Linked DNA regions of Homo sapiens. Changing the gene in region 1 together with any one later gene gives a genetic interaction. Each region holds a gene or a part of one and is shown on either strand. Other genes may lie near its edges. The genes, in order: CEP63 and NAA50.

Region 1 (3,827 bases):
TAATTTTTGTATTTTTAGTAGAGACGGGGTTTCACCGTGTTAGCCAGGATGGTCTAATTTTATGTAATTATATGGCACATGCAAAGAAGAAATCAAAGTGACATAGTGCATAGAGTTGAATGATGGTCAGGTTGGTTAGGAAAAGAATCAGTGATATAACTATGAGCAACTCAGATGACAAACATCCACAGAAAATCAGCCCTTACTATTTGCCTGATCCTGAGAATTGATGGTGTTTGGCACCAGGCAGATGGTGAAGGTATTACAGAAACACTTTGCACATTAGTAAGTTTACTTTATTTCTCACATAGGATATTACTGGTCCACTTCCCTCCTTTTTTTTTTTTTTTTTAAACAGGAATCTCTATCTTAGACCATTTTGATTTCTAAAATAGCAATATTTCTTATGTGACTATTTCATTATTGTGCTGCTGCCACCTGGTGGCCACAGTAGTGATGTCATACTTCAGTTTAATTTCTTTTTTTATTGCAAAGACACTATTAAGCCAAAAGATAGGCTGATATATTTTAAGATATAGAATACTGTAAAATATATAAAGGTTGCACATCGATTGTGACTCAATTGATTGCCACAATGTCTAGGTTGAATCCAGGACTATAATTTTTAGTTTATCATAGTCAAGTTATTTAACTCTCTAAGCCTGTTTTCTCAAAGTAATAGTATCTGTCTTTTATGAGTATAGTGAAGATTGATTTAGACAATGTGTACAAGGCAGCTGTTGAACATTCAGTAACTTAACTTCTAAGTATATTATTAAATAGTCATAGAAAATATATTAATGTATATTACTAAATATATTAATGTTTAAGAATAACATGACCTAAATAAGTATAATTTTACTAATGATAATTTTGAATAACTGTGATAGCACTGTCAATAAGAATAGCACTTTCCTACATGTTAGTTAAGTATCCGTGTATGGTTGTCAGGAGCATGCTACTTACAGTGGACATTTAATTGGCTGTTAGAACCCATGAAAAAGCTGGAAGAAACCTTAGAGAATATTGTTCATGCCCCTCATTTTGCAGATGTTAAAACAAGTCCGAGAATATAAAGCTAGTTAGTTGCAGAGTAGGACTGTATCCTGGGTCTCCATCTAGTGTGGTGTGGACCGTGTACTGCCTCCCAGTTCTCCTAGAGTGGACCAAAACATGGAATCTTGGTTGCATTGTAGTTGGACTGTATTGTGATTTGAAAGTGGAGTAAAACATGGGAACCTTTTTCTTTAGGTTTTTATTTTTGCAATTTTGGTGTAATATGTAGGATAAACCAACTAGAAAAAAAATCCTCCCTGTCACGTTTGTGCACAAATAATTTAATACTCAGTTTGTTAGTATCTTTAAAAATAGATGCAAATAAGGTGCAGTGGTTCTATTTTCCAGTCTTCTCATTCTCCTCTGTGTCTCTGGAACACCCTGGGCATGTCTCTCACTATATTTATCACACTGGGAAAGCCTTTTTGGCTCATTTTTTTCTGTCCCATACTAGACTATTAATACCTTGAAAGGGGCCATATCTTTCATCACTATATATCTAGTTGTTAGTACAACATTGAATTACGTGTTGAGTAAAATAATCTACTTCTTACAGCAGTATAATTTTTAGATGAGGATTAGCCCAGGGGCAGAACCTCTACACCACAGTCTGGTTATTGTCTTAAGGGTTTAAGGAAAAAGCATTTTGGAATGAAAAGTGGTTTGACATTGAACATTTTGAAGATTTATTATAAAAGGCGAGAAGCATACACATATTAATCAACACTACTGAGTTTAAGGGTCCTCTTTCCTTTCTCACTGTCACCTTTCTTCATGGTGTATCTTACCCTTTATTTTATATTTATTTATTTATTTATTTATTTATTTATTTATTTATTTGAGATGGAATCTCTGTCTGCCACCCAGGCTGTAGTGCAATGGTGTGATCTCGGATCACTGCAACCTCCGCCTCCCGACTTCAAGCGATTTTCCTACCTCAGCCTCCCCATGGCTGGAACTACAGGTGCATGCCACCATGCCCAGCTAATTTTTTTTTTTTTTGGTAGAGGCGGAGTTTTACCATGTTGGCCAGGCTGGTCTCAAACTCCTGACCTCAGGTGATCCGCCTCCCTCGGCCTCCCAAGTTCTAGGATTACAGGCGTGAGCCACCGCACCCAACTGTATCTTGCTGTTTATATGGCAGTCTTCTATCTCCCGTTCCCTCTTTCTCTGCTAGACCCTTCATGTAGTTCCCCAGCTGTGACCAGTTTGCATGGGGGAGAGGGTAGGTAAAAGAGGGAGGGGAGTTAAGTTCAGCCAAAATAATCTGCCACGTGCCATGTTGAAATGCTGCGTTGAGCTCTGCAGCTGCAGAGATGAATAAAATTGGGTTTCTGCCCTGGAGGGATGAATAGTCTAGTAAGGAAAAATAGTATGTAAAAAACTCACTTCCAGTGTGGTGCAACTCCTATGAAAGAACGTATTAAGCACTGGGAGCAAATGAAGTGCAGAGGTGGGAGGGCCCTGTGGCTGCCTTTCGGTGGAGAGAGGATGTTGCATGCAGGAAGCTCTATGAGCCTGTCTTCAGGAGTGAGTAGGCTTTCCCATGATAGACCAAAGAGTTTAATCTCAGTACACTTCGCATTTTTTATACTATCTCTTTAATTTTTAAAAAGCTATACTTTCCCTCTGACATGTGTGAACCCATTTCTTTCTCATTTTGTTAAGGGAGTTTGTGTATCCGTCTGCTAGAGAGATCCCACCTCCACCCCTGCTCACCCGACATTAGGAATTAGGCAAAGAACAATGAGATATTTGATATTTACACGGAGAGAGTGTCAACCGCAATTCAGATATTTTTAAGTTATTCTGTTTTAGTCCGAAATAGTTTGTTCCTAGTATTCCTGAAGTGATGTTCTTTGACTGCTTCTACAGTCATCTTAAGAAGTGCTGCATTTTTTCATTATTATGTATGCTTTCATTCACATTCTTAAGTTGTAAGTTAGAATGTTAGAACTGAAGAAATGAATTGTCTCATGACTGATATTTTTTTCTTTGTCAGTTGCCAAAACAAAGGGGATTTGGTGATGGAGGCTTTGTTAGAAGGAATACAAAATCGAGGGCATGGTGGGTAAGTTTGCTTTTTTTAAAATTAATTTTTTTGGTTAATACATGATTACATATTTATAGGGTTCACATGATACTTTGATACATACATATAATGTGTAATGATCAAATAAGGGTATTTAGTATACCTATCAGCTCAAGCATTTATCATTTTTTGTGTTGGGAACATTTCAATTCTTCTAGCTACTTTGAAATATATAGTAAATTTTTAAAGTTTAAGGAACCTTACTGTGCTAGTCACCCGACTGTGCTAATTACTTAACTAGTTACATACTAGTTACTTAGTAGTCACCTTACTGTGCTATTTAACACTAGAGCTTACTCTTCTACCTAACTGTATGGTTTGTACCCATTAACCAAACATTCTTCACCCCCAACCCCTTCCCAGCCTCTGGTAACCATCGTTCTACTCTCTACCTCCATGAGGTGAACTTTTTTAGACCCCACATATGAATGAGAACATGAGATATTTGTCTTTCTGTGCCTATTATTTCACTTAACGACCACCAGTTTTATCCATGTTGCTGCAAATAACAGGGCTTCATTCTTTTTTATGGCTGAATAGTATTCCATGATGGATATATTTCTGACATTTTCTTTATCCATTAATCTGCTGTTGGACACTCAAGTCAATTCCATATCTTGGTTATTGTGAATAATGCTGCAATAAACATGGGGGTACAAGTATCCCTTTCACATACTGA
Region 2 (3,473 bases), about 21 Mb from region 1:
TTACACTATGTTAGTTGCATTTAGGTTTTAAAGCAAAGAATCTGTAGAGAAATCTATGCAATATATAGTTTGTCCAGATTAGCTTTCATTTGGGGAATGAAGTTCTGAAATATCTAAAGCAGTTTACTCATCAATTGAAAAGTCCTCCAAAAAGAGAACTATTGGGAAACCATGGTGTGGTGGTGGAAAAGAAAAGCTCCCTCAGTTTTTTGGAGGGAATAACTTAAAAAAATACTTAAATGGCTAAGTTTACTTGGTGCAGTTAAGAATTAAACTTGTCAATTTTAACATTGCTGTTACATCTGAAATAAACTTATGTGATGTTCTGGTAGTGATCTGTGATATCTGTAAATGTCAAAACTGTATTGTTGAATTCTGCAGCCAGCAACCGTACATACTCATTGTGTAGTGTTTCCCTTACTGCTTTTATTTACTTTCACATTTAAGATCTAATTTTAAAATCATTAAAATAGGCCAAGTGTAATTAAGGCATCCTAATTCAGATCTTCTGTGACTTGCTAGGTACAGTGCCCAATATCTACAATTCAGTTCCAATGAGAGGGAAAAAGTAAGATCCAAGGAACTGTCTTGCTGCTGTATTTTTAATGTAATTATTAGAAATACTTGACACTTTAGGCTGCAATCTAGTTAGTAATGTTTATTGGCTACAGACAACATATTCAGGTGTTTTGTTTTTCTTCCTTGTAAGGAAGGAGTACGGTAGTTCAATGAGTTGGGAATTGGCTTTTAAGCTTTTTATCAAACATGAATTTAAGATTTTTTCTTTAACAGAATTCAGTATTTAATATTTCTAGTCAAAATTGTTATAATTAGATTTTTGCTTTTTTCATTTAAGAAGCAATGAGTGATCCTTGTCTAGTGTGTCTCAGTTATTACTGTAGTTTAAAACAACAAACAAGTATTACCTTCCACAGTTCTGGATCAGGAATCTAGGAGCTGCTTAACTGGGTGGTTCTGTCTTGAGATCTCAGAAGGTTGCAGTCAAGCTGTTAGCCAGGACTGTACCATCTTGAAGCTTGACAAGGCTAGAGGAGCCATTTCCAAGATGTCTTGCTTACGTGGCTCTTGGGCTTCTGTTCCTCACTGTGTGGGTATCACACACAGTGCCTGATGCTCACGTGGCTCTTGGGCTTCAGTTCCTTGGGCACCAGTTGCCTGGTGGACAACTGGTATGTGGCTTCCCCTAGAGCAGGTGATATAAGAAAGTGAGCAGAAACCATACTTTTTTATGACGTAGCCTCAGGTGACATTATTTCTGCCATATTCCATGAGTCACACAGACCAACCATTGAATCAGCTTGGTATAGTGTGGGAGGGGACTGCACAAGGATGTGAATACTGGGAGGTGGATATCATTGGGCCCTCTAGGAGACTGGCTATCACTGCTCAGAGAAGATGCTGGGCTTCGTTGACTCCCAAGGTCAGGGTAGTTTTGGTTAGGTTGTGTTTTATTAGTCTCTAAAAGGAGTAGTTTTCTAAATGAGGGTTATAAAGCACTGCACTTTACAGTTATTCGGGATATAAAAGAAATAGTGGGTCTAAAGGCTGTGCTCTTGTGGTTGGGTTTTCAGTGGGGAGGGGAGACTAGTCTGTCTCAGACTGATGCTGTTCTCACTGATTTGAATATTTCTGGGAAATTGGATACTACAGTCACAAATAGGAACAGTAAGCCTATAGAAGTTTTTCAGGGAGTAAATATTTTCTATGGCAGTGTCCTGAATTGGTTCTCCCTTGCAAGACTGAACTGTAGGAACTTAGTCCTAGTTTATGATACAGCCAAGTAACATAGTCACATGGGAAAAAGAGCTTGAGTCAGATTTCTTAATGTGTGTTGTTAACTTGGTAGAACATTGAGAATTATTTAAGTCAGAGAACGATCTGTTACTGGGGCAGAAATTCTCAACCTTTTCAGTTCTCCAAAATTTAAGATACTTGATTTCTTAGGTAAAATGTTTTTGTTTTTGTTTTGGAGACAGAGTCTCGCTCTGTCGCCCAGGCTGGAGTGCAGTGGCGCGATCTTGGCTCACTGCAAACTCCGCCTCCCAGATTCAAGCAATTCTGCCTGAGCCTCCCAAGTAGCTGCGACTAGAAAGCGCATGCCACCACGCCTGGCTAATTTTTTGTATTTTAGTAGAGATGGGGGTTTCACCGTGTTGCCCAGGCTGGTCTCAAACTCCTGAGCTTAGGCAATCCTCCTGGGGCAGCCTCCCAAAGTGCTAGGATTACAGGCGAGCCATGGCGCCTGGCCAGTAAAATGTTTTCTATCTAGAATGAATCAAGGTATTTTCCTTGCTCAGTAGCTTCTAGAATAAGAAAAAAATAGCAGCAAGATCTGATTCAGAAATAGTTGGGAGCAGAAAGTTAATATGAAGGAGTTGCTACTTGTTAACAGCCTAGAGTTGAGATCTAGAAGAATTATTACCTTTTTAAATTTGTGATGAAAGCTTAAATCCAGCATTTGGGAAGTTACTCTATTGGCTGAACTATTTTGGAGTTTGTAAGCTTTGTATTAGATATTCCTGATTTAACTGAAACTAATTTGCCACATAGCTTTAATTTCATCCCAGTTTTACTTGTTTTACTGTCCTCAAAAACTCAAGACATCTGAACTCAAAGGATCTAAGCAGTATAAATTAAAGCACATGTTGAATCACTGTAGCTTTCGTAGGACATCTGATTATAATGCTTTTCTTTGTTTCTTTGTCCATACTGAACTTGTCTAGTTTATCTTTGAGAAACATTTGCTAGTATCAAAAATCTTCTGTAAAGATTTGAACAATCTTGAATTCTCCTTGTCACTAGCCATCTCTTCCCCTAAAGTATAATAAAACTGTCAGGTACTATATGTGTAATTGCTTATGCAGGTGAAATTTGAATACACAAACAGTAAATCCCAGTTCTCTTAGTAAGATGAAGGCTTTGTTATAGCACCTTTAAAACAATTTTATAACATCCTTCATTCTTATCACTTTCCTAAGTAAGAAACGATCTTCCTTTAGTGGATATAAAAGTTGTACATTGTTTCTGCAGATTTACTGGGTGCCTACTATTCTGAACTCTAGGGATACAGCAGTGAGCAAGGCAAAAAATATCTGTGACTTCTTTAAATAAAGGTAAGTAAAATTCTAGTTTAAGCAGAATTCATGTCTAAGTGCAGGTCATCCTATTTACTAAAATGAATCAGCTCCTTCAAGGATCTTGATTTTACCTTAATTTTGAATTCCCTACATTGACTTGTTTTCTCTAACATTGGCTCCAGTACAAACAAAAAGCCTTAATTCCCATAGGAGAACTGAGACTTACAAGTGGGAAAGGGAGTGCAAAACAGATACAAGTTCAGAATTTATACAGCAGAAACAATCTAACATTGTAGAGGTTCTTTTTTTTTTTTTCTTTTTCTTTTTGAGACGGAGTCTTTCATTCTATCACCCAGGATGGAGCACAGTGGCGCA

Evidence for each region.
Region 2: changes in CEP63 (region 1) and NAA50 together harm fitness more than expected from each alone (negative genetic interaction), as found in Homo sapiens cells (one large-scale study listed by BioGRID).

What each region holds. Positions count from the first base shown.
Region 1 is NC_000003.12:134,492,238-134,496,064, forward strand, and holds part of CEP63 (centrosomal protein of 63 kDa), read left to right. Parts: intron 1-3,058; coding exon of another isoform or gene 3,059-3,083; coding exon 3,084-3,127; intron 3,128-3,827. UniProt on the Homo sapiens protein: Required for normal spindle assembly.
Region 2 is NC_000003.12:113,715,851-113,719,323, reverse strand, and holds the end of NAA50 (N-alpha-acetyltransferase 50), read left to right. Parts: 3' UTR 1-2,866; downstream 2,867-3,473. UniProt on the Homo sapiens protein: N-alpha-acetyltransferase that acetylates the N-terminus of proteins that retain their initiating methionine. Has a broad substrate specificity: able to acetylate the initiator methionine of most peptides, except for those with a proline in second position.